4 linked regions of the Homo sapiens genome follow. The protein of the gene in region 4 interacts with the protein of the main gene of each other region in a pairwise test. Each region holds a gene or a part of one and is shown on either strand. Other genes may lie near its edges. The genes, in order: FOXR1, PNRC2, FOXM1 and BANP.

Region 1 (7,030 bases), on a different chromosome or scaffold from region 4:
TGAGCTTGGTACACAGTAGCCACTTAAGGAGTATCAATTGAATGAATGTGTGGTGCTTACAGAATTGGCTGCTACAAACGGGCATCTCCCAGAATAATTTTTACAGATGGAGTCTTGCTGTTGCCCAGGCTAAAGTGCAGTGGTGTGATCATGGCCGACTGCAGCCTTGACCTCCTGTGCTCAAGGGATCCTCCTGCCTCAGCCTCCCAAAGTGCTGGATTACAGGTGTGAGCCACTGCATCCAGCCAAGATTATCTTCATAATCCAGAAAAATGGAAATTGCTCCAAGATGCTTTAGAAGGCTGTGCATTTTCCTCCTTTGAGGAAAGAAAATTACGGACTCCCTTTGCTGCACGGCAGGCACCTGCCCCATTGCCTCAGGAGCATCTGTAAGCTGAAGGCATTCCATCTCCAACCTTGGAGTTGATCTCCACCTCCACCCTTAACCCCATCCTTAGAGACCCCACCTCCACAGACACACACAGAAGGCTAGTGAGGGTAATTTTAATAAAGCATTAGCTGGCTGTTGCTTCTTGGGGTTAAAGATCAAAGAGGAAGGGCATCACATCTGTAAGAAAAGGAGAGAGTTCAGGAGTTTATACTTCACAATTGCTGTTTCCTAGGCCTGGGATGCTCTCTCATAGCAGGTCATCTGCTTCTTTCACTCAAGGCTCAAATGCTGCCTCTTCTCTGAAGCCTCCCTGCACTGCTCCAGGGAAAGTAGAAGTACTCTTTGTACATAACCTCTATTAACTGTGCTTCTCATGTTGTGTGCTCACTATTGCCTAGACTGCTGGTCTTGGTAAGGCCAGTTGCCCCTTAGTTGTTTGCCCATGGATTCCTGGCACATCACGCCCCACACTGGTGGGGGAGGTCTCACCTCAGGCAGGCATCACCTGAGGGTCTCAGATCACTGTTAATCTCCCTGTTTCCTATAGAAGATGCATTCCCCCACCCCCACGGTGTGACCCAGGCTTCCACACTTGGCCTTGGGTCAGGATCCTCAGGTCTCTTCCCCTTGGGCCCACGCACAACAAGTCTTCACACCTGGCTGGCTCATGCACTGTTGGATACTTTCTAGCCGAGTGGAAGCCAAGGCGCGGGCCTCCTCCGCAAAGCGGCGGTGTCCCTCCTCGGTCAACTTCCAGAGGCAAGATCGAGGCCGTGTGCTGGCCCCGCCCTGCATGCTGACAGGCACTTTCTCAAAGCTGTCTCGAAAACAGAGATTGTGACGGACAGTATTCTTCCAGCCTTCCGGGGCCGTCCGGAAAAAGGGGAAGTGCTTTCTATGGACAGGGAGGAGAGGTAAGGAAAGGCATGTTATGTCTGGGGAATGCCCTTCTCTGGGGCATGTTCTACCCAGGGGCCAGGGGCTTTAGCCCTTCTCTCCAGGGGGATAGTAGCAAGTTGGCCTGGAGTTGCTCTTTGCTAACTGAGCACGTGGCAAAGCATCCACGTGGTGCGTGGCTCACCTGAACCCTCCCTCCCTCTGAGGGCCCAGGGCTTGGACCACAGCATGAACAAAGCAGAATCAGGCCAAGCAGCTCCTGTAAGAGGAATCTTGGTTGAGGACGGACACCACTTGAAAATTCCTGTCCTGAGACATTAGGCACTTCTCCTAACACTGGGAAAGGGCCCAAGAAACTCCCTTCCTCACCCTCCTGTGAGCAGGACTATCTGAGCTAAATGGAAAATCCTTCTCAACTGGGTTCTCTGCACCCCTGGGGGTGCAGGGAGCTGTGCCAGGCAGTCCAGTCCTAGCAGAAGCAGGTGGGAACCGTTGGGGAAACCTGACTTTAGACTGGCTGATCTTCAGAGGATGGTGGGGAAACTGTTACCTGACCCAAGTGAATGTATGTTTTAAAGGAGAACTATACCCAAAGAACACTGAAAACTTGTTAAAAAGAAAAAAAAAACTAAAGCCATAAAATGTGGGCACAATGTGGGCACAAATGCACCTGGGAAAAGGGAACTGGGAACATACTTGTCCTCTCAGACCCAGATAGGGAAACCAGGTCAGCAACCCAGGGCCTGGGATGGATTGGAAGGCATCAGCCCGGGGCCCTGGCCCCCACTTCCCCCTCCTCGCAGGGCCCCCGGCACATACCGAGTGAAACTGTAGATCTGTTGCACGTTGAGGCCACAGGGGGAACTGTTTCTTAATGCCAGGGCAATTAGGTGGAAGTAATTGAGAGGGGGCCGGGACCAGAGCCTCCCCGCCTGGCTGCTGGCTTGCCGAAGCCTCCGACTCTGGAGGGGGGCCCTTTTGTGAGGGGATGGGAGAGCCATAGAGGAGCTGTCTTCCTGGTCCTCAGCCTCCTCCTCTTCTGTGAGCTAGAGGAGCACAGAGTAGGAACTGGTCCTGACTCCTCAGCCTCTACTCCAGGGTGCAGTGGCAGGAAGGGGGGGTGGTCTAAGGCCACCATTTGGGCTTCTCCCCAACCCAAGCATGTAGGTAATTTCTGAACCCATTCACCTTTTGCTATGGCTAAGAGAGCAGAACTGTAATGGCTCTTCCCCATGCCCCTCGCCTACTGCCCAAGTCCCACTCCCATCCCCAAAAATGCATACCTCCCAGGTGCTGGGGGAAAAGGCAAACCGCTTCCGAGGGGGAGACCGCTTGCTGGAGGACTGGGACAGTGATTCCACCCCTGCGGCCTCTGAGCAGCTGGCATCTTCCTCCTTCTGGGGTGGCTGAGAGGAGGGGAGTGTGCTTGTCAGGTCCTCCCTCTTCCTACGTCCTGAGACCTCCAGCTTTCCAGGGGGATACACAATGTTGGGATTTACCCACATCCAGAGGTTGGGCTCATAATCTGGACCTGTGCAGAACAAAAGATTGTGTGCCACAGCCCACTGGCTTTGGGTGCCCCTGGTCTCCAGCCCAGGCCACAGAAACAGGTCAGAGAACTCAATACGTACCATCCTTATCAGGGTTGGGTTTTTTCTCTAGGGGTAATTTTGGTGGCTTAACAATTCGGAGTTTATACCTGGCAACTGGCAAAAAGAAAGACAGAGAGAGTCAAAACATCCTAGAATATCCCTTTGTGACCCTAGGATCCTAGGCCTTAAGGCTTCTCTGGGAGAAGGTTGTGGGCCCTGCCTTGGGAGTTAACATCACATTCTACTTCTACGGGTTTTCCCTTTACCTCTCTGACCTTCTCATTCCCCTCTGCATTCTTTTCTTCTCACTCTACGTATACTATCCCTGAATGATCTCATGCATGTCCGTGGCTTCAGTTAACATCTATAAAAAAATGTAGAGCTCTCAAATCTTCACCTCTAGCCTAGCATTCTGTGCTAGCCCTTAAGGAGAACTACCTACTGGATGTCTTTACTTGGGTAGCCCACAGGCACTTCAAACGCACTTCTAAAACTGAATTCCATCTTCTTGCTCTTCCTCCTGTATTCTTGTATTTTTTTTGAGACAGGGTCTTGCTCTGTTGCACAGGCTGGAGTGCAGTGGTGTGCTCAAGAGATTCTCCCACCTCAGTCTCCCAGGTAGCTGGAACTACAGGTACATGCCACTGCACCCCACTAATTTTTGTATTTTTTTTTTTTCAGATGGAGTCTCGCTCTGTCGCCCAGGCTGGAGTGTAGTGGCGCGATCTTGGCTCACTGCAACCTCTGCCTCCCAGGTTCAAGTGATTCTCCTGCCTCAGCCTCCCAAGAAGCTGGGACTACAAGCGCACGCCACCACACCCGGCTAATTTTTGTATTTTTTAGTAGAGACGTGGTTTCACCATATTGGCCAGGCTGGTGTCGAACTCCTGACTCATGATCTGCCTGCCTCACCCTCCCAAAGTGCTGGGATTACAGGCTTGAGCCACCGCGCCCAGCCCAATTTTTGTATTTTTTGTATAGATGAGGGTCTATGTTGCCTGGGCTGGTCTCGAACCCCTGGGTTCAAGCAATCCTCCTGCTTCGGGCTCCCAAAGTGTTGGGATTACGGGCGTGAGCTACCATGCCTGGCCTTCCTGTATTCTTTGTCTTAGCAAGTGGCACCACCATTAATGGTTGTTCAGGACAAAAACTATTTTTGCCCCCTCACTGTCCCTATGAGTGTCATTATATTACAGATGAATCTAGGCTTTTGTTTGAGAAATGATATACTTATCGGAGAGCTCAGTAATTAGAGAGGATGCCTATTATGTTGCTAATATTCAACATAGTATTCAAAAAAGGAAAAAGTAGCAAAAGATAGAAAAATTGGGGTTTTTTTGGAGACAGGGTCTTGCTTGGTTGCCCATGCTGGAGTGCAGTGGTGTGACACCGGCTCACTGCAATCTCCACCTCCCAACTCAAGCAATCTTCCCATCTCAGCTCTTAAATAAAGAACTTAAAATACTTGAACAAAGACTTATAATACATACTATTAAGATGCCAGTTACCCTCAAAATGAATCTGTAAGTTTTATGCACATATTATAGCACAAAAATTAAAGTTTGGCCAGGTGCGGTGGCCCACACCTGTAATCCCAGCACTTTGGGAGGCCGAGGCAGGTGGATCACTTGAGGTCAGGAGTTTGAGACCAGCCTGGCCAACAAGGTGAAACCCCATCTCTACTAAAAGTACAAAAAATTAGCCGGGCTTGGTGGTGTGTACCTGTAGTCCCAGCTACTTGGGAGGCTGAGGCAGGAGAATCACTTGAACCTGGGAGGCAGAAGTTGCAGTGAGCTGAGATCGTGCCACTACACTCCAGCCTAGGTGACACAGCAAGACTCTGTCTCAAAAAAAAGTTCTAACATAGTAAAAATCACCATAAGCAAAAAACAAATAGACAAACAAACAAAATAGCAAAACTTCAATCCAAATTTCTCAGTTCTCTGATACATAGAGAGCTCCTACAAATCAATATGTAAAAGGTCAACACAAACTTAGAAATGGACAAATGATATGAATCAGCATTCACAAGGAGGGGATAACTGAATGGCTAACGAGATGATCAGCATTATTAATAATACGAAAAACACTGTAAGATAATGAGATAATCAAATTGACTGGAATTATAAAGATAATACCAAGTGTTGAGAAACATGCAAAGAGACAGAATCTCTTATTTTACTGCAGTTCTGTGTATCAACTGGAGCAGCCCTTGTTAAGAGCAATCAGGCAGGACCACAATTTACTCGACCTTACTGTCTGCTCCTGGATGTATATATTCAAGTTAATACAGGAACTTATATACTAATCAATCTCCATTGTTACTACCATCTACTGACCTCCTGGTTTAGCTGTCACTCTCCAACACTACTCCTGCCTTAAATCTTGGCTGCTGGCCAGGTGCAGCGGCTCATGCCTGTAATCCCAGCACTTTAAGAGGCTTAGGCAGGCGGATTGCTTGGGCCCAGGAGTTTGAAATCAGCCTGGGCAACATGGTGAAACCCCATCTCTATAAAAAATACAAAGATAATAATCTAGCCGAGTGTGGTGGCGTGAGCCTGTAGTCCCAGCTACTCAGGAGGCTGAAGTGGGAGGATGGCTTGAGCGGGAAAAGGGAGGTTGCAGTGAGCCAAGCTTACGCTATTGCACTCCAGCTTGGGCAACAAAGCCAGACCTTGCTTCAAAAACAAAAACATGATCTTTGCTATTTATTGAACTCTTCTCCAGCGAGTTTGACTTCTACTCTACTGTGGACACTCCCTCAGGCATAACCTAAACCAACAACTGCAACCTCTCCGTAACCTCATTTATGCACCACATAAAAACGCACCACCTCGTGTCTTTCTGGCTAACTCCCTCAACCCCAACTATGATCCCACTGAGGTCACCAGTCCACTGAATTATGGTTTTGGCGCACTCGTTTGGCAGAGGTGGATTTAGTCAGGGTTGTGGTTTGGCCAACAAAGTGCTCCAAAGCCACAGATGATCCAGGGAACCTGCGTAATATCTGACCATGGGATTCAAGTTAGTTAAATAAGGGTGGACATATCAAGTGATTGAAACAGTGAAAAGGTGATAGGATCAATGGACTGGTGATCTCATTGCGACCCAAGGATAGCACCTTTGTATGTCTGTGTCTCTCTTTGGCACAGATCCCCCATGCTTTTTCAAGGATGTTGTTCCACAAATCTTCCCCTCTCTTTCCTGTGTCACTAATTTTTTGTCTTTGTTGGGTCATTCTCATCAGCATGCAAACATGCTGTTAATTCTCCCATTTTAGGGACCAGGTGCAGTGGCTCATGCTTGTAATCTCAGCCTGCTTTGGAAAGCTGAGGCAGGAGGATCACTTGAGCCGAGGAGTTCAAGGCTGCTCAAGGCTGCTCAAGGCTGCTCAAGACTGCAGTGAGCTGTGCTGGTGCCACTGCAGTCCAGCCTGGGCACCAGATAGAGACCCTGTCTCTAAAAAAAAAAAAAAGAAGAAAGAAAAAGAAAAAGATTATCCCATCTTATTTCCTGTTGAGGCATAACACATTGCCTCTACTTCCCCTCCTTCTACTCTTAAACCCCCTTCAGTCAGGTTTTTTGTTCTACCACTTACTAAAACCACTAACCAGGGACCTCTGCTTTGTTAAGTCCAATCATCACTTACATTCCACTCATCCAACCCCTCCCTCCTTGAAAGGCTTTTTCCACTTGGTTTCCAGGATACCACAGACGCCCTAGTTTTGATTCTCAATAGTCTTTTTTGCTAGTTATCTCTCTTCTCTCCAATCTCTTTACAATGGACTGCCCCCAGGGCTCATTCTTGTTCCTCCTCTATTCTTACTCCTTAAGTTCCACCCATATACCAAAAGACCCAAAATTTACATCTGCAGTCCCCACTTCTCTCCAGAACTCCAGGCTCATGTATCCAACTGCAGACTCAATGCTTCTACTTGGATGTCTAAGGATCTCCAGCTCAGCATATCCAGAACAGAATTCCTGATCTTCCTTCCTAAACCTGTCTCCCACTCAGTACAAGGCAACTCTATCCTTCCACTAGGTCAAAACACTTTGAAGGCTCATACTCAATTGTCTGTCTTATACGCCATATCCAATCCATCAGCATAGCCAGCTGGTTCTCCCTGCTACTACCCTGGCCCAATCTACC
Region 2 (7,836 bases), on a different chromosome or scaffold from region 4:
GACAAAGGGGGTCTCCTTCATAAACATGCCTCCACACCAGGGGATTGCCCTTAGCAAAACTGAAAGCAGTGATTCTCAACTGGAGTGAGACATTGGAATCAACTGGATTGGAATAGCCGCAGCCCCGTGCTCAAAGATTCTGATTCTGGGATGGGGTCTGGGCATCAGAATCCTTTAAGGGTCTTGAAGGTTGGACCCCTGGATCAGCGTCGACAGGAGGCGTGGGAGTTCATCATTGACTTCCTGTGCCCCGTTTAGTAATTAGACCAAAATGGCTGCAATGGTTAAGAACAGATTTGACACTTCTCAGGAATGTCTGAGCAAGCAGGGAGGCAGCAGATGCTTCCCCAGGAAATGAATTCATGGTGTGGGGAGGGGTGTGTGTTTTGCAATCAGTTTGGCAACAAGATCAGAGCTCTGAGGCACATCGAAACAGTGGGCAGGTGTTCCATTTCACTCTTCTGGCAGGTTCTAAGAATTTGCTTGCTTCTTCAAACTGAATTAAGCCCTGAGCGGACAGACCTGCAAAAACATTCAAAGTTGACCATCTGATTTCATATATGAGCTTAAAGAAGAAAAAGAACCAAACCAGCTTTTGTTTTGAAATGGACTCGCTAGGGCGGGGGTGGAGTTGGGGGATAATATTAAAGTACCTAACGTTTTTAGCATGTTCTGTTTATTTTTGAGACAGGGTCTTGCTCTGTTGCCCAGGCTGGAGTATAGTGGTGTGATCATGGCTCACTGCAGTCTCGACATCCTGGGCTCAAGGAATTCTCCCACTTCCGCCTCTCAAGTAGCTGGGACCACAGGGGCACACCACCTCCCACTCCCAGCTAATTTCTGTAATTTTTGTAGAGATGGGGTTTCACCATGTTGCCCAGGCTGGTCCTGAACTCCTGGGCTCAAGTGATCCTCCCGCCTCTGCCTCCCAAAGTGTTGGAATTACAGGTGTATTCTAAATCTACATCATAAAAGTGCTTTTACATTTATTATTTCATTGGCTCCTACCATGAGCTCTACAAGACAGGGAGGATTGCCATTCTACAGATGAAGAAACTGAGACTCAGCCTGAAGGCCAGTCGATTCTACTATATACTTATTCCAAAGCCATGGCAAACCTGGGTGATTTCTCCAACTACCCCGGCACTGGTGCAGTTGTATGCCTCAGCCTACAACCTGTCTCTCCCCCAAAGCTGGGCTTTCAGAAACACTTTCTTTTTTTTTTTTTTGAGACAGAGTTCTGCTGTTGTTGCCCAAACTGGAGTGCAATGGCGCGATCTCGGCTCACTGCAACCTCTGCCTCCCGGGGTCAAGCGATTCTCCTGCCTCAGCCTCCCAAGTAGCTGGGATTACAGGCATGCGCCACACGTCCAGCTAATTTTTTGTATTTTTAGTAGAAACAGTGTTTCACCAAGTTAGCCAGGCTGGTCTCGAACTCCTGACCTCACGTGATCTGCCCACCTCGGCCTCCCAAAGTGTTGGGACTACAGGCGTGAGCCACTGTGCCCGGCCCAGAAACACTTGCTTTTTGCTCCACCTCTACTTACAGATTAGGTAGATAATGTTTTCCTAATGATTTCATTGATTTTGGTTGCCACTGATACATAGCTCAAAACAGATCCTCCAGTGAAAAAATTTCAGCAAGTTGTGAGAGTCCCCCTCCTTTTCTACTTTATTTGCAGGGTCCAGTAACAATGTTTGTTACCTGCACCTCCTGAGTGAGGTTAGCAGGCTGATTTTGGCCTTGCCTGTCCTTGACTCTCAGGGGAAGAAGGGAGGGAATAAATCTTCCCAGACACTAGTTTCCCTCTCTGGTAAATTGTAAAGGAAACAGCTTTTGGGTTCCTTTAGGGCCAGGATGGAGCCTCCTTCACTGCTGTATCCCCAGAGCGTGGCATAGTGCCTGGCACAAAGTAGGCACCAGATAAATCTTTGCTAAATATTTTGTATTAAACATCCATGTATTTATTATGCATTTGGCTTCCAGTTTAGGTGAGCTGTATCCTGAGAGCTGTTTGTCGGCATCAACATTTTCCTATTTGAATTGAGAACTGCTAATAGGATTGTGCTGGTGGAGCTGAGTTTAAAGACCATATGGTTCTGGCAGAGGCTGTATCAGATGTCCCAAAAAAGGTATTATTTTAACTTCTCCTCTCTAGTTCTGAGCTGTTGCGGGCACTTGGTAAATACTAATGAATGATGAGGCTGGAGCTAGCCTGAGAGGGTGCTGGGAGTCTGGGACGCAGTAAAAGCTTTAACAGTGCTTTCCCCAAGGGCATCTCGACTCTGACCTTCTGGCAAAGAAACTGGTTCTGCCAGATGGTAGGATGGAGGCTTCTTGTTGCCCGAACAGCCCCGGCAGCCCAGTCAACAGTCAGTGTCTGCTCTGAGCAAAAAACCTTTTAGGTGCTGGAGAGCACAGATGCTGCAGGCAACCTGCAGCCTGGCCTCTTGAATCCTAGTACCTGGCTTTCAACTCGAAACCGTCTGAGCCTTCATCTGTACAGTGCGGATGAAAACAGCTCCTACCTCACAACATTATTGTGAGGATTAAATGAAATGATGTAAGAAAAAAAAATTTAGCACAGGGTAGGGGGCAGAGTAAGGATACTCTGTGTGGGTTTATACATTTCCAATGTTATGTGTGCGTTTATGCAGATAAAATTCAGAGTGGCTGAAGAGATGAATTTTTTTTTTTTTTTTTTGAGACAGTGTCTTACTCTCACCCAGGAGTGCAGTGTTGTGATCGCAGCTCACTGCAGCCTCTACTTCCTGGGCTCGGGTGATTCTCCCACCTTAGTCTCTCAGGTAGCTGGGACTACAGGCGTGTGCCACCATGCCCAGCTAATTGTTATTTGTAGAGATGGGGTTTTGCCATGTTGCCCAGGCTGGTCTCAAACTCCCGCGCTCAAGTGATCCTCCTGCCTCGGCCTCCCAAATTGCTGAGATTACAGGTGTGAGCCATGCCCTGCCATGAAAAGACTAACTCTAGACTGCAATGGCTTTGAATAATTTTCTAAACGTTTAGAGTTTAGATTTTATTCCGTATCACAATTTGGAGCCACGGAAGTGTTTTTTTGTTTGTTTTTTGTTTTTTAAAGTGACACCATTAAAAATTCATTAAATACAGCTGGCTATTATCTGGCTAGACGTCTAAGCAAACTTCTTGAATGTTTGGAAAACAGATTACACTTTCACTAAGACACCTGTTGGTTTACCACATACTTCTTATTTGAATATGATTAGCATCAGAAAGTCCCTATGCTCAAAAATACCTCTTTTATCAAATTAGATTAACAAACTGCATCCCGTAAGATGCAGTAACTTTTCTTAAGATCCAATGGCTAGAATATAGGAATTTGGGTTGGATTGGGAAGTGGGGGATAACGGTGGCAAAAAATTGAAGATTAAAAAACGAAATACAGGCCGGGTGTGGTGGCTCACGCCTGTAATCCCAGCACTTTGAGTGGCTGAGACGGGCGGATCACGTGAGGTTAGGAGTTTGAGACCAGCCTGGCCAACATGATGAAATCCTGTCTCTACTAAAAATACAAAAATTAGGAGGGTGTGGTGGCAGGCGCCTGTAATCCCAACTACTCAGGAGGCTGAGGCAGGAGAATCGCTTGAGCCCAGGAGGCGGAGGTTGCAGTGAGCCGAGATTGTGCCACTGCACTCCAGCCTGGGCGACAGAAGGAGACTCCGTCTCAAAAATAACGAATTACATGAGATTTATAAAAAGTTGGTAAATATAAATTCTGTAACGTAAACTTGGGTATATATGTGTATACACGAACAAACTGTGAATGAGACTGATTTTGTACCGTTTGGCCCAGAATTATTCACGCTCATTGAAATTAGTGCTCTTTTAAAAGATTCACATTGGGTTACTTATACATTTACTCCAAAGAAATTGCCATTTTCCCCTTACCTGCATCTGGCTGGCATAATCAACTGAACAATATTCTCTTTCTTCCCCTTTTTCACTTACAAGTGGGGCAGAAAGGGGAGGAGAGCAGTCCTCATTCTTTCAGCAAACTTACTGTGCACTTACAACGCGCGAAGGCGCTGTGCTCAGAGAAACAAAACCTAACCGGTTGTGGCCCTCGAGGGTGTGTGGGTGGGGAGAGCTGCAGCCACAGGAAACGGTAACACGGCGCGTAAAGGGCTCTAATTGAACTTAAGGACCAATGGGGCCACCAAGCAGGAAGTGACTGACTTGCCCGCGTGTGTCTGAACCGCCTTCACAGGGAGGCAACTTTTGAGTAATTGCGGGGCTGGAGGGTGGGGGCACTGGAGGGAACCGCGGGGAGGCGCCGGCTTCGGACGCGGAGTTGTGGGTGTGGGAGAGAGGCGACCCAGAAGCCGAGGCCCGAGGCGGGAGGGGGCTGCGCCCTGGCAAGAGGCTTTCCGGAGTATCTTCCATCTGTCAATACAGGCTACAGGACTCAGTGGCCCTAATTCGAGAACCAAACGTCCCCCGCCGGTCAGTCTTTTCCCCCAGGGCAGTCCCAAGGGCGGCGAGCCCGCGCGCACGAGAGCCGAGCGGTAGGAAGAGCCGAGAGCTAGCGGCCGGGGCCTCGGCGGGCCAGGGGCGCGGAGAGGCCGCCGGAGAAAGGACTAAGACACCGGTGGACCGAGCAGTTACTCCCGGCATGCTCCTCCTCCCCGGGCAGATTTCAAACCCTCTGCAGCCCCACCTCCGCGCCTTCGCCCCCGGCCAGCCCCAGCAACAGGCGGCGGCCCGCTTCTCATTGGCCAGGCCCGCGCTGTCGTGTTTTGATTGGCCGCGGAGCCTCCCGGCCCTGCTTCTGCAGTCGCTGCCGACTCCATTTTGTCGGTAGAGGCAGAAGGAGAAGGTCGGGTTGTAGAAGCTGGGGTGGCCGGCAGCTCGCTCATCGGTGTTCGTGGGCTTTGTCGGTCCGTGCCTCGTCTCTCCCTGGAAAGGGAGGGAGGCTTCGACGTCGAGAGGGAGCCGCTGCCGCGTTAGTTCCGAGCTTGAAGTCAGTAAGTAGCGGCTGCGCTAAGGGCGCGGCCATGTTGGTGGCCGCGCTCCCCATTGTTGGAGGAAGGAGGCGAGCGGAGGCGAGATCCGGGTAACCCGGGCGGGCGCGGGCGGTCACGGGCGGTCGCAGCGCCGCGACCCCTGCGGCTCCGGAGAGATGGGGCCACTGGGAAGCCAAGCCCTTGTGGCGTCGGAGGAGGCGTTTTCCGGGTTCGAGTTGGGAATTACTCACAGTCCGGAAATGGCAATTTATTTAGGGTTGTTTATCTGTTTGGAAAGCTCTCTTACCCCTTTGAAAGGAGGGGGCTTAACTATTTGGTAACTTATTTTCTTGGAACATCAAATTAAAACCAAACCTTGAAAGTTAAGCTGTTCCCTCTAGGGAGACATTTTTATATATTTAAGATGGGCTTAGACTGTTAGGGCTTGTGAGAACTTATTTTAAGACGGGGAGGAGGCGAGAGCGTTCATAACCAAAGGAAACACTGCGTGATGTCTACATGTTCCAAGAGACTGAAAATGGATGTGACATGTGTGGAAAGATTGGAAAATTCTGGTGGGAGTTTAAAAACACGGTCTCTTTAGAAAATCCGCCTGAAGCCAATTTTTTGATATGACTCAACATTTAACACTTCCTTGATTTTATACGCGAGAGAATCTGAAGGTCTTTCCCAGGAAAAAGATAAAGATAAAACTTATTGCGGGACTTGGAGACACTTACAAAAATTCCCCAGGAGTGACTGGATCTCAAGGGTGAAGAGTTTTTTTAAATGGTCGTGGTTATAAGGTCAAAGAAAGCCATCTTACGAGAAATTTTCTACCTTTTAGTTCAGGAAGTAGCCTTCTTTACAGTCAACGATTTTCGTAGTAAATCTAAATGATCACTTTCTCAACGTGTTTTTGAAATAATGAAGTAATCTTTACTTTTCTAGCTAGGACTTCTCTCAAACTTGTGTGCTGAGGAGACTCAGATGTTGGCCTCAGCTCCTAGGCTGAACTCAGCAGATCGGCCCATGAAAACTTCTGTATTGAGACAAAGGAAGGGATCTGTCAGAAAGCAACACTTGTTATCTTGGGCTTGGCAGCAAGGAAGAGGACAGGTAGTGGAGATCCTGCAATCTGAAAAGCAGACTGAAAGGTAATCATCATAATGGGCAAACATTTTATGATGGAACCATCCTAAACCAATTGTTTTTATTTTAAAATAGATTATGTAGATTTGTGGGTAAGCTCATTTTTCTTAGGGAAGGTATAACAATAAAGGTTGTGCATATATTGAAGTCTGAACGGCTTGCTTTTTTGAGTTTAAAGCAGCTGAATAGCCTGTTATTGAGTCTTGTCCAAAATATCTGGAGTTATAAGTTGGAGCCATAGAAGCTTCTTAAAGATTTTGAACTTTTCTTAATGGAATTTTACTCAATATTTGTTTCCATTCACTTGTAGGTGACAAAGAAGCTGAAGATGGGTGGTGGAGAGAGGTATAACATTCCAGCCCCTCAATCTAGAAATGTTAGTAAGAACCAACAACAGCTTAACAGACAGAAGACCAAGGAACAGAATTCCCAGATGAAGATTGTTCATAAGAAAAAAGAAAGAGGACATGGTTATAACTCATCAGCAGCTGCCTGGCAGGCCATGCAAAATGGGGGGAAGAACAAAAATTTTCCAAATAATCAAAGTTGGAATTCTAGCTTATCAGGTCCCAGGTTACTTTTTAAATCTCAAGCTAATCAGAACTATGCTGGTGCCAAATTTAGTGAGCCGCCATCACCAAGTGTTCTTCCCAAACCACCAAGCCACTGGGTCCCTGTTTCCTTTAATCCTTCAGATAAGGAAATAATGACATTTCAACTTAAAACCTTACTTAAAGTACAGGTATAAAATAAGACAAATGTTTAAATTTAGTTATGTTCACGGATAGTTGTCAATTGGTCTGAAACAAATTCGCTAGGGAATCTATTTGTGTAGAACTAATTAATGTAAAAAAAATAGACCATCTCGTGTTGTGTGCACTGTGATATAATGGTAGTATCAGTGCAACTTAAACTAATGATTGTACTTGATATTAAGTGTTCTCAACTGAGTAACTTTTAAGTGGAAACCAAGTTTAGATTTGGGGAGTGGTAAAGGAATCAGCTTTTTCTATTGTTAGGGGAAGACAGTAATTTATCATTCATGGACCAGTAGATTGTTGAAAGTTGGTGAATCGGATTATAAGCTTCTAGCTAACACAAGGATTCAGAATTAGGTAAACATCTGAAGGTTTAGTATATTAGAAACACCCAAACCAGTAATATGCTAACCTGATGCACTGCTGAAAGAAAATGTGAATTTTTCGTAATAATTGCATTTTAGTGAATTGTACAGTGGGTGGAAAGGGCATTTGGAGCTCATTAGAATGAGACATAGTACACCCCAATGGCCCTGTTTATTAAATGTAGTGGATTAAGTGTCTGTCAACAAATACACCAAAACCATTTTTTATAGAAACAGTATTTAATGGTCACTCAATAGCTTTCAAAATACATTTTTGTATTACAGCACTGCACAAGCTATTCTAATAGTGCTCTGGCCTCATCATTCCTGCAAAGCTTGCTTTGGGGAGTTGGATAATGTGAAAATTTTAAGTACCTAGGGGAGAAAGAGCCATGTAAATATCTGTAATAAACTTGTAGCATATGTAAAGTTTTCTTGGCCTTTATCTTACAAAAATGGAGTATTTTAGTATGAATTTGCTGAATGTAAGACCGTGGACTGTTTTTTATAATATGGCCTAATTTTAAAGGTCCAAAATAACTTGTTTTTAAAGTTTGCCCTTGTGCTAAAGTGCCAGT
Region 3 (6,969 bases), on a different chromosome or scaffold from region 4:
GCCCACTACTGCCACTCTCTTTTCCCTTGGCAGTCAGTGCTGTGATGATGCTGTGAATATTAGCATTGTTGGGGATGGCCACTACTTGCGTGTTGGGCATGGTGGGGTGGTTAATAATCTTGATCCCAGCTGGAAACTTGCAAGAGTTGGACTCTGCCACTTCCTTGGAGGCCTCTGCTTGATTAGACTCCTGTTGGGCAGGGGATCTCTTAGGTTCCTCCTCTGATGTTTCACTTGGGGCATTTTGAACAGGAAGGGGCAGCCTCCGTCTTTTGAGAATCAGTGGCCGACGGGGGCTAGTTTTCATTATGAATCTGCGTTTTCACTCTCCATTGAGAATCACAAGTGTGGACCCTGGAAAATGCAAATAGTGGCAAGATGTTAGAGATTGTTTAGGCTGAGAAGAGGTCCTTTTAGAGAAAGGTGCTCCTCTTTATATGACCAGGAACATGAGCCTAAAGGCCCAGGTAAACATTCCATGGACTTTTGTAAAGACCTCAGATAATAAGGAGATAAGCTTTACTGACAAAAGAAGGCTAAAATTACAGCAGACAGAAGCAATTCAAAGGGCAAAAATGGGACTGGGTTGGAGATAAGACAAAGATCTCCTTGAAGCTTCAGAATATTTGGCTACAGAAATGGATGGGATAGCTACAAATATGTGGAAATCTCTATAATTGCCTACTATAATATAAATAGATCACTTGCAATGACTGTATGGACAGAAATGGAAGATGCTAGAATAGGAAAGCATATGGTAATTAGGAGTCCTGATGAAACTCTGATCCCATAATCCATTCAAGACAAAGGATTTTAATTTTTTTTTTTTTTTTTTTTTTGAGACAGAGTCTCACTTTGTCACCCAGGCTGGAGTGCAGTGGCACGATCTCAGTTCACTGCAACCTCTGCCTCCTGGGTTTAAGCGAGTCCCACGTCTCAGCCTCCTGAGTAGCTGGGATTACAGGTGCCCACCACCACGCCCGGCTAGTTTTTGTATTTTTAGTAGAGACAGGGTTTCACCATGTTGCTCAGGCTGGTCTCAAACTCCTGACCTCAGGTCATCTGCCCGCCTCGGCCTCCCAAAGTGCTGGGATTACAGGCGTGAGCCACCGCGTCTGGCCAAGCCTTTTGATTTTTATATTACTTTGTAAATAGGACCAGTGCACACAGAATCAGGGAAGAAAGGCAGATTGTACTATTGCCACACTACTGGAAAAATCATCTCCCAGTTTACAAAACCTCACATAAAATGGAAACCTCTACTGAAGGCCCATGTAAAGTTGTGCAGCTTGTGCACTGAACAACTCTAGAGGGTGACATTTATTTCACAGGCTATTATACTTGCTCTAATTTAAAAAGCATGTTTTCTTTTACAATTTGTATTGTATTTATACAGTGGCATTTTAGTACTTGCATGTGGTTATATATATTTTAACTAAGCATGCCACTTTATTAATTTCTTTTCCAGAAATAAGACTATAACCCCTGTCTTCTTAGTACCACAATGAGCTATCATCATTACACTAAGGTGGTTCTGAAATGCTAACAGTGTAGTCTTTTTTTTTTAAGTCTTTTGTTGATTTTTTTTAATTTTTTTTTTTTTTTTGAGACGGAGCTTCGCTCTTGTCACCCAGGCTGGAGTGCAATGGCGCAATCTCAGCTCACTGCAACCTCGGCCTCCCGGGTTCAAGCGATTCTCCTGCCTCAGCCTCCCGAGTAGCTGCAATTACAGGCATGCACCACCATGCCCAGCTAATTTTTTTTTTTTTTTTTTAGTAGAAACAGGGTTTCACCATGTTTGCCAGGCTGGTCTTGAACTCCTCAGGTGATCCACCCGCCTCGGCCTCCCAAAGTGCTGGGATTACAGGCGTGAGCCACTGCGCCCGGCCTTTTGTTGATTTTAATAGATACATGGAATATTCTACCATTAAGCAAAATTGTGTAATTCTATTTCACGGAACTTTGGAAGACAGAGGAATTGGCTGTCTCTTTTTTAGGACACTTATTCTCTCCCTGAAAAGCAACTGCACTTTTTTGACATTTGTCATCTGCATAGAGTTCACAGGCCCTCCACACCTCTACCTTCAAATCTCAGTTTTACTTTCACCTCCGATCTTTCCAGGCTTCCCTCTCTCCCCGCATCAATCAGTAGATATTATTCCTCTTTTTCCACAGGATATCTAAGTCTTAATTTTCTCTTCTACTTCCTGACCAGCCCGTTATTATTATTGCCAACACTTTCTTGCCCGGGAAACTTCCAGAGTGGCTCCTCCGACCCATCCCCATCCTGAGCGGGGAAATCTTGCTACATTCTCAAGAACCAGGAAAAGGGCCCTGCAAAAGGGTAAGTAAGATGGAGGCGGTGTTGCCTAGTGGTGAGACAGCCTGGGAGCAGGGGAGTGTGTATGCAGGTTGGTCTTTGACTCAATGTAGTACAATCTCAGTCTTCATCTCAGCCACAGTCGGCCTAAGAAGGTAGGCCACCCCAGCCCTCCCGAGGCCGCGGGCAGGGTGCGGAGGTCAGACTTCCAGGGAAGGCCAAGGGGCGCTTTAAGCAGTGAGAAGGCCACGGCCAGGAGGTGGACGCAGAAAAAACTTGCACCCTGGCTCAGATTCTTCCCGTGTGACCCAAATCTCCACTCGTGGCCCGTGCCCTGCTGCTAGACGCCCTGACCTCCGCGCCCGGAGGCCTTGCTCCCCGCCTGTGCCCAGGCCAGGCCTGGGACTCCATTGCTGCATCCCGCTCACCTCCAGACTGCAGTCGCCGCCGCCGTTAGGCCGTAGCTCCGAAGGCGGGCTCCGGGCTCCTCCAACCTGGGGGCCGAGCCAGGGCCCCGGACGGGGGCTCGCGCCGGACCGGCCGGGTCCCCGGCGGTGCGGGCGGGGTGGGAACCCCGGGGGATCCCGGGAGGGGAGGGGGTCCCGGGCCGGGGCCGGGGGTGGGGTCTGGCACCGGAGCTTTCAGTTTGTTCCGCTGTTTGAAATTGGCGCCGGCGGAGCGTTAAGGTCACGTGACGGAACGTCGCCAATCGGCGCCGGCCTTGTCTCGGCATTCCGGGCTCGAAGGCTGTGCGGTCTGCCAGGAGCTGCGGCCCCGTCCGGCCCGGGCTGGTAAGGCGGACCGCAGGCCGGCTTGTGGGGGAAGAAGTGGCCGTGGGGCCGGGGAGGGGCCGGAGGGGTCCCCGCCGCGTGGGTGGGCGAGCCGAGGGAGAGTTTGGGGACGCGCGGAAGCGGCGTGACAGGCCCGGGTCCCTGGGCCCGCTTTTCCTGCCGCGCTGGTCACGCCAGGCGACACGCCCCCGCTTCCCCTCAGGCTCCTCTGCTCCCCTTTTCAAAGCTCGGCTTTAGTTGATTTCCTCACTGGGGGAAATCGTACCCCATTTTCCCACAGTGAACGATCGTCTGCTCCCCCCGATTAGACTAAGTTCCTTTGAGGGCTGCGTATTATCTCCGCTTTCTTCCATCTTGAAAAAAAATGTCGGCACCATGAACCCTACCTCAGCGCGAAACCTGTCTTTTGCCCCTCCCGAAGCCAAGCCTTCGGATATAATAGACCGTAGTGCTTTATTTATTGACTTAGTCAACCAGTCTAGTTGAGCAACTGCTGTGCGCCAGGCACCGCTAGGCCCTGAAGATACAATGGCAGACAAGGTTCTTTCCTTCCCCTGGGCTCACAGCCCAATCCTGGAAGAGGGGCACAGACATTTTAATCAAATAAACAAATGTGGGCTGGGCATAGTGGCTCACGCCTGTAATCCCAGCACTTTAGGAGGCCGAGGCGGGTGGATCACTTGAGGTCACGAGTTCGAGACCAGCCTGGCAACATAGCGAAACCGCTTCTCTACTAAAAATTAGCCGGGCGTGGTGGTGCGTGCCTGTAGTCCCAGCTACTCTGGAGGCTGAGGTGGAAGGATCACCTGAGGCCGAGAGGTGGAGGCTATGGTAAGCCATGATCACACCACTGCACTCCAGCCTGGGCGACAGAGGGAGACACCGTCTCCAAAACAAACAAATGTTGAATTATTGCTGTAAATTGAAACATTAGAGGTTAATGATACTTTGAGTATTTACAATAACGAGATCTTGAGAGGTAGGACAGGAAAGGCTTTTGTAATGAGAGCTTGGTGTGAGATCTGATGCCTTTTACAAAGAAAGGAGGGAACTCCTCTAAGCAGAGGGAATCAGGCGTGCAAAGGCTGGATGGCAGGAGGAAGCACAGTGAGTACAAAGGCTGAGAAATATCTGAGGGGTTTGAGCTAATCGACCTGAATGGAGTGTGGTGTGAGTTGAAGCTGGAGCCGGAGGAAGCAGAGCCTTAGCCATACCGAGAAGTTTTGTGCTTATCCAAGAATTAAAGGAAACCAGTCATAAGCTTTAAGCAGAAGTGAATCCAGGTCAGATTTGCATTTTAAAAGGTCCCTCTATAGCGGGGATTGCTAGAGTGGATTAGGGCAGAACAGTTGGATGTTGCAATACTCCAGGCAAGAACTGCTGGAGCTTGAAAAAGGGTGGCAGGGAGAGAGAGAGAGGAAGAGAAAGAAGGAGACAGAGAGAGTAAAAAAGGGGCATTAAGAAAACATGTTTAAGAGGTAAAGTTGACAGGGCTTGATGGTGGGTTGGATGGGAGGTAGAAGTGTCAAGATTTTCAGCTGCATAACTGAAGGAATAATGACACTATTCCCTGACCAAGGGCCCTGGAAGATAATCACTTTGGCCAAGGGACGGGCGGGGGGTTGTCAGGGGAATGATCGTGAATTCAGTTTTTGTTTTTTTACTACAAAGCAATGCTCAGAATGAGTTTTTTTTTTAATTATATATTTATTTTTATTTATCTTTTTATTTTTTAGAGACAGGGTCTTGCTCTGTCCCCCAGGCTGAAGTCCAGTGGCATGACCTTGGCTCACTACAACCTCAACCTCCTGGGCTCAGGTGATCCTCCCACCTCAGCCTCCTGAATGGCTGGGACCCCCTACAGGCACATGCCACTACACCCATCTAATTTTTGTATCTTTTGTAGAGACAGGGTCTCACTCTGTTGCCCAGATTGATCTTGAACTATTCGGTTCAAGTGATCCTCCCACCTTCACCTTTCACAGTGTTGGCATTACAGGCATGAGCCACTGTGCGCGGCCAAGTTCAGTTTTAAACTTGTTGAATTTTTTTTTCTTTTCTTTTTTTGAAACAAGGTTCTGGCTCTGTCACTCAGGCTGGAGTTCAGTGGCACGATCTCGGCTCACTGCAGCCTCCACCTCCTGGGCTCAAGTGATCTGCCCACCTCAGCCTCCTGAGTAGCTGGGACTACAGGTGCACGCAGCCGTGCCCACCTGATTTTTTGTATTTTTTGTAGAATTTGGGTTTCACTGTGTTGCCCAGGCTGGTCTCAAACTCATGAGCTCAAGCGATCTGCCCACCCCGGCCTCTGAAAGTGCTGGGATTACAGGCGTGAGCCACTGCGCTCAGCCTTACACATGTTGAATTTGAGGTGCGTTTGAAATATCTAGTTGCTGTTCAGGTAGGTAATGGGATATTTGGGTCCCAAACTTAAGGAATTCTAAAATATATAAATATTGAAGTCATCTACTTCTAGGTGGATACTGAAATACAGGCAGATGAGTTTGCCTAAGAAAAGTATATAGAGTGAGAACAGCTCCAAAGCACAACCAGAGGGGAAGGACTTAGACAGCAGAATGAACTGACCTCTAATTAGAGCAGAAAGAAGATAGATGTTGATACGCATAGGTTTGTATATTTGCTTTCTGGAAAATGAGAGTATTTCCTTTGATGTCTTCTGTATTCTTTGTCAAGTAGGAAGTAAAGTCATTTGTTAAGAGAAAAGGGGTGTTCTGAAGTTCTAAGAAAGTGGGCAGGGTGTGGTGATTCACATGTAATCCTAGCACTTCAGGAGGCTGAGGGAGGAGAATCACTTGAGCCCAGGAGTTCAAGCAAGACCTCATCTCTACAAAAAATAAAATAAGAAACTAACCAGGTGTGGTGGTGCTTGTCTGTATTCCCAGCTATTCGGGAGGCTGAGGCAAGAGGATCTCTCGAGCCCAAGAGTTTGAGGCTGCAGTGAGCTATGATCGTGTCACTGTACTCCAGCCTGGGCAACAGAACAGGACCCCATCTCTAAAAATAATTTTAAAAATTAAAATAAAAATGTTCAGGCTGGGCGTGGTGGCTCACGCCTGTAATCCCAGCACTTTGGGAGGCCGAGGTGGGCAGATCACCTGAGGTCAGGAGTTCAAGACCAGTCTGGCCAACGTGGTGAAACCCCATCTCTACTAAAAAATACTATAATTAGCTGGGCGTGGTGAGGGCGCCTGTAATCCCAGCTACTTGGGAGAGTGAGGCAGGAGAATCGCTTGGACCTAGGAGGAGGTTGCAGTGAGCCGAGATCACGCTACTGCACTCCAGCCTGGGCAACAGAGTGAGACTTTGTCTCAAAACAAACAAACAAAATTTCCACTTTATTTATTTATTTTGAGATAGGGTCTGTCTGTCACCTAGGCTAGAGTGCAGTGGCACGATCATAGCTCACCATATCTTCAAATTCCCAGGCTCAAGTGATCCTCCCACCTCAGCCTCCCAAGTAGCTGGGACTACAGGTACATGCCAACATGCCAAGCTAATTATTCTTTTAAATTTGTAGTAGAGACGAGGTCTCTCTATGTTGCCCAGGCTGGTCTTGAACTCCTGGCCTCAAGCAGTCCTCCCATCTCAGCCTCCTAAAGTTCTGGGATTACAGGCGTGAGCTACTGCACCTAGCTTGGAGAAGTTTTAAGATAATCTTTGTGGAGAATGAGTTGATCAAGGAAACAGGATTGCTGAGCAACGTACCCATTTGAAGCTGATGACTTTCAGCAAGTCATGAATTTCAAAACTATAGCCATTGCTACCACTGTTATCTTTTCACTGGATTTCTGTGGTAGCTTTTTGTTTGTTTGTTTTCTAGACTGAATCTCGCTCTGT
Region 4 (4,413 bases):
GAACTCCTCCCAGAGAAAGCCCAGAGAGGCCCCGCTCTAAGTCAGCGAACACGGCTTCACGTAGGCCCTTCCCAAGCCCCTAACGCAACTGCCACAACGGTGTAGGTGAAGCAGTCCAGGCCCGGCTGGTCACCAGGGATTCAACTGCCTCTGGCACTTCTATTTGCAGATATTATCTCTGCCTTAAAAAAATCTGTAAATAGTAGGGCCTGCCCCTGTGGCTGCAACTTTCTCTAAGGACCCCAGGACTGTGCCTTCTGGAGCTGGCAGAACTCTGTGGTTTATGAGAACAAGAAGTTCCACAGCTGTGTCCTAAACCAGGTTTCCCCTCGGCAGTGCCTACAACACGGAAACAGAACTGACTGTCCCGGGGTGCCCACACCTACTGTCTGCACAGTGGAGAGGGCAGCAGCGTGGCCTGAAGGCCAGCGAGCCCAACCCCCCAGGGACAGGCACTCTCTGGCGAACCGTCTCGCAGGAGGAAAAGCGTAAGGCTGCTGTGGTCATAAATACATTTTATTTCATTAGAAATGCATAATTACAGTGTTTAAGAGCATTTCCCCTAGAAAAGTAGGTCAGCAATACCCCATCGGAACCGAGAGCTGGCTTTGCAAACACCTGCCTCATGACACTGGACAGAGCACACAGCAAAGGGCTCCCGTCTCATGACACTGGACAGAGCACACAGCAAAGGGCTCCCGTCTCATGACACTGGACAGAGCACACAGCAAAGGGCTCCCGTCTCATGACACTGGACAGAGCACACAGCAAAGGGCTCCTGCTACTCCCCTGGGATTTTTTTTTTCAAATTTTCTTTTTTGTTATAAACACCATAGCAAATTAAAAAAAGCTGTTTAAACAGAAAAATATCATAGTTCTTGATTTCCCGCGCATATGCGACGCTCTCCGCACCGTGCCTCCCCTCGTGCTCCGACACCAACAGCAGGACTCAAACGAAAGGGGTCTCCGGCTGGGGGCGGCGGCGGCTGCTCTTTCAGTTGATAGGATGCTGTTCCCCGCGGAGGCAGCGGCCTTCAGACGCACTTCAGCAGAACACGTGCAGCCGCTGCCTGTGCCGAGGCCGTGAGAGCAGGGCGCGTGGGGGCCGGGCCGTAGGCGGAGCCGGCGAGGGGCTCCTGGTGCCATGGGCACCGCTCACTGAATCTGGATGGCCCCGTGCTCGAGCTGCATCTCCGGCTGTAGCGTGGGCTGCAGGGCTTCGGCCGTCTGCAAAAGGGAGAAAGGAGGGACTTTCTAGAAAAATACCCAGCACTGCATGGCCAGGGGGTGTCATGAACAGCCAGTGACTTTAAGGCAGAATGAGAAACACGCACACAGGAGCGCGAAGGAGCCCTGACGGCCCCAAGGCTCACCCGACTTGGTACACAACGCCTGGCTCCCAGCGGAACGACGCGCCCACGACCCTGGCGCCCAGGGAGGCTCCGGCACACCCAGGCCCCGGCCCGCCCCCGACATGGACTCCGTCACCGGGGCCGGCGCAGCAGCTGCTCCTGCCTCTCCACCCCCAACCCGCTGCCTCACTGGGAAGTAACCTGGAAGTGGAGAACATCCTGGCCCTCCCGAAGATATTTCCCTGAAGCTTCAGGTACCATTTTGCCTTCCTATAAACACTGTCCCAATGTTTCAACAAAGGATTTTCGGGGCAGCTATGATTCTTCCCTCAAAGATACAGGTTCTGGTCAACGAGTTACAGATATTAAAAGGACTTCAAGTACGAAATCACAGCTTTATCTTAAAATGAGTTAAAGGAGGTCGGGCGCAGTGGCTCATGCCTATAATCCCAGGGCTTTGGGAGGCTGAGGCAGGTGAATCACTTGAGGTCAGGAGTTCAAGCCTAGGCTGGCCAAAATGGTGAAACCTCGTCTCTACAATAAATACAAAAATTAGCCGGTGTGGCGGTGCACACCTGTAGTCCCAGCTGCTAGGGAAGCTGAGGTAGGAGAATCACTTGAACCCAAGAGGCAGAGGTTGCAGTGAGTCGAGATTGCACCAATGCACTCCAGCCTGGGCAACAGAGCCAGACTCCATCTCAAAAAAAAAAAAAAAAAAGTAAAGGAAAAACATACAGTCTTGGAATAAGTCACTCATCCTCCAGCTCAGCCACACGGAACACGCCCCAGGTGGAGGAGCCCACTCTAGGGCTGCCGTGCACACTCCCAGAAGCTTCAGCTGGAAGGCACAGGAACCACAAAGGAAGAGCCAGGAGAAGCCACGAGCCCACGGCCGAGCCCACGGGAGGAAGAGGCCTGGCAACTTCTACTCTAGTTAAGGTCCTGCTTCATTTTATTTTTTAGAGATAGGGTCTTGCTCTGTTGCCCAGGTTGGAGTGCAGTAGTGCAAGCACACCTCACGGCCGCCTCGACCTCATGGGCCCAAGTGATCCTCCCACCTCAGCCTCCCAAGTAGCTGGGACCACCAGTGCACACCACCACGCCCGGCTAAATTTTTTTGAGACGGAGTCTCACTCTGTCACCTAGGCTGGAGCACAGTGGCGCAATCTCGACTCATTGCAACCTCCGCCTCCCGGGTTCAAGCAGTTCTCCTGCCTCAGCCTCCCGAGCAGCTGGGATTACAGGCACCTGCCACCATGCCTGGCTAATTTTTGTATTTTTAGTAGAGATGGGGTTTCACCAGGTTGAGCAGGCTGGTCTCGAACTCCTGACCTCAGGTGATTGGCCTGCCTCAGCCTCCCAAAATGCTGGGATTACAGGCGTGAGCTACCGTGCCCGGCCCCAGCTAATTTTTTTACGTTTTGTAGAGATGGGGGTCTCGCTACGTTGCCCAGGCTGGTCTTGAAGTCCTGGGCTCAAGCAACGCCCCTGCCTCGGCCTCACAAAGCACTGGGATTACAGGCATGAAACACTGCACCTGGTCCAGGTTGTGCTTTTTCAAGACAAATGTCAAATGACACTCGATATACTGTTCCCTGGATGGAGGAGGGGCCTTCCAGGGTAGGATGAGGGGTCAGTATGAGGACTGTCTCCTGCGAGCCCGGCCACAGCTGGGAAGGCCTAACGGGAAGGGGTGAACCTCAGCTGGAATGGAGGAGCCACACCAGGGCCCTGGGGTGGGTGGCTGAAGGCCATGGGAGGTTGGGGTAGGGGGGCCACCGCCTGGGATGCAAAGCCCCTTCCCCCAGACAGCTGGAAAGGCAGCTGGGGACTTGGGTGGGTGGGGACAGTGGGGCACAGGTCTGGGCTGGCTGGGACTCACTTGCCCTCCAAGGACAGTGGCCAGACCTGTGTTCTGGGCAGAGGCTGGTGGAGGTGCTGCCTCTGCTACAGATGGTTCAGGGAGCCTGTGACACCCACAGGCCACCGCGCATTAAGACAAGTGTCTTCCCCTGCAAATGGCACCCCCCTACCCTCCCAACCCACTGCTCCAGGGAACAGGCCCCACTCTCCACTTTGAGGATTGGCCACCCCCACAGGCCAGCTACCTGCCTTCCCTCCTAAGGGAACCCATCTTCTCAGAGCCAGGCCCTCACAGCTGAGCCACAGGTTTTCCTAGAACGAGCTCAAGCGCGTGACCCTGCTCTGACCCATGCAAGATGCAAGACCATTCCCAAGCATGACTGGGGTGGGGGCTTCATGTGGATAAGGAGGCTCAACCAGAAACCTGTCTCTGTTGGGTGCAGTCACGCCTGCAGAGTCACCATGAAGGCCTTCGGTCACTTCCCAGTGGGGCAGAGCTAGCCTGAGGACAAGCTGAGATGGTAAGGCAGAGAGCTGGGCCCTTGGTGACAAGCTAACGCACCCTGCAGTTGTCTGGCCTCAGATGGGCAAACCCGCTCACCACCAAGTCCAACCACGCTGGGGTTTTCTGCAGGGAAAGCGGCCCCTTAAGCACGCCGTCTTCCTTGGCTGTTACGATGGATCCTAATTAAATCATTCACCTGGGGCCTGCCAGGAGGGCATGGTAACAGAGAGAGCTTACAGGAAGCTAGGGGTGTAAACACCAACCATGGGACACAGGTTTGTTCAATTCTGAAATCGGAAAATGACCAGAAACTTATAATGCAGCAGGACGCCCTCAGGCATGGCCCCCACATCTAGTTTCCTGGGCGCGGACCTCACTGCCCTCCTGCAGCGCTCCTATCTGGAACGGCACGGGGGGCTGCCACGCGTCCTCGGCAGGGGCTGAGGCAGCCACGCCTGACTGTTCTTCACGGACAGGCCAAGGTTCACACCACATAAAATAAGCGCTGCCGAACGAGTTTGCCTTCACCATCCCACCCACCCGCTCCTCACTGCCTGTGCGTTCTGCGCCCATGGCCCTCACCGTGCTTCCAGCGCATCTCCAGTGAGGTCGGCGACAATGTGGAACCAAACACCACGCAGAGTACAGGGCGCGCCTCTGCGGGGGCCACCGCGCCCATGGGCAGAGTACAGG

Evidence for each region.
Region 1: the proteins of BANP (region 4) and FOXR1 interact in binary tests that used the Homo sapiens proteins (3 or more experiments, as listed by UniProt).
Region 2: the proteins of BANP (region 4) and PNRC2 interact in binary tests that used the Homo sapiens proteins (3 or more experiments, as listed by UniProt).
Region 3: the proteins of BANP (region 4) and FOXM1 interact in binary tests that used the Homo sapiens proteins (3 or more experiments, as listed by UniProt).

The regions. Positions count from the first base shown.
Region 1 is NC_000011.10:118,974,746-118,981,775, reverse strand, and holds the end of FOXR1 (forkhead box protein R1), read right to left. Parts: intron 2,995-7,030; coding exon 2,920-2,994; intron 2,820-2,919; coding exon 2,572-2,819; intron 2,335-2,571; coding exon 2,108-2,334; intron 1,287-2,107; coding exon 1,048-1,286; coding exon of another isoform or gene 1,004-1,047; exon of another isoform or gene 920-1,003; intron 569-919; coding exon 540-568; 3' UTR 489-539; downstream 1-488. UniProt on the Homo sapiens protein: Transcription factor which acts as both an activator and a repressor.
Region 2 is NC_000001.11:23,954,995-23,962,830, forward strand, and holds the start of PNRC2 (proline-rich nuclear receptor coactivator 2), read left to right. Parts: upstream 1-4,833; 5' UTR 4,834-5,004; intron 5,005-5,934; 5' UTR 5,935-6,140; intron 6,141-6,445; 5' UTR 6,446-6,463; coding exon 6,464-6,883; 3' UTR 6,884-7,836. UniProt on the Homo sapiens protein: Involved in nonsense-mediated mRNA decay (NMD) by acting as a bridge between the mRNA decapping complex and the NMD machinery. May act by targeting the NMD machinery to the P-body and recruiting the decapping machinery to aberrant mRNAs.
Region 3 is NC_000012.12:2,874,172-2,881,140, forward strand, and holds the start of FOXM1 (forkhead box protein M1), read right to left. Parts: upstream 3,004-6,969; 5' UTR 2,749-3,003; intron 2,345-2,748; exon of another isoform or gene 2,094-2,344; intron 355-2,093; 5' UTR 308-354; coding exon 1-307. UniProt on the Homo sapiens protein: Transcription factor regulating the expression of cell cycle genes essential for DNA replication and mitosis. Plays a role in the control of cell proliferation. Also plays a role in DNA break repair, participating in the DNA damage checkpoint response.
Region 4 is NC_000016.10:88,073,404-88,077,816, reverse strand, and holds the end of BANP (protein BANP), read right to left. Parts: intron 1,228-4,413; coding exon 1,156-1,227; 3' UTR 501-1,155; downstream 1-500. UniProt on the Homo sapiens protein: Controls V(D)J recombination during T-cell development by repressing T-cell receptor (TCR) beta enhancer function. Binds to scaffold/matrix attachment region beta (S/MARbeta), an ATC-rich DNA sequence located upstream of the TCR beta enhancer.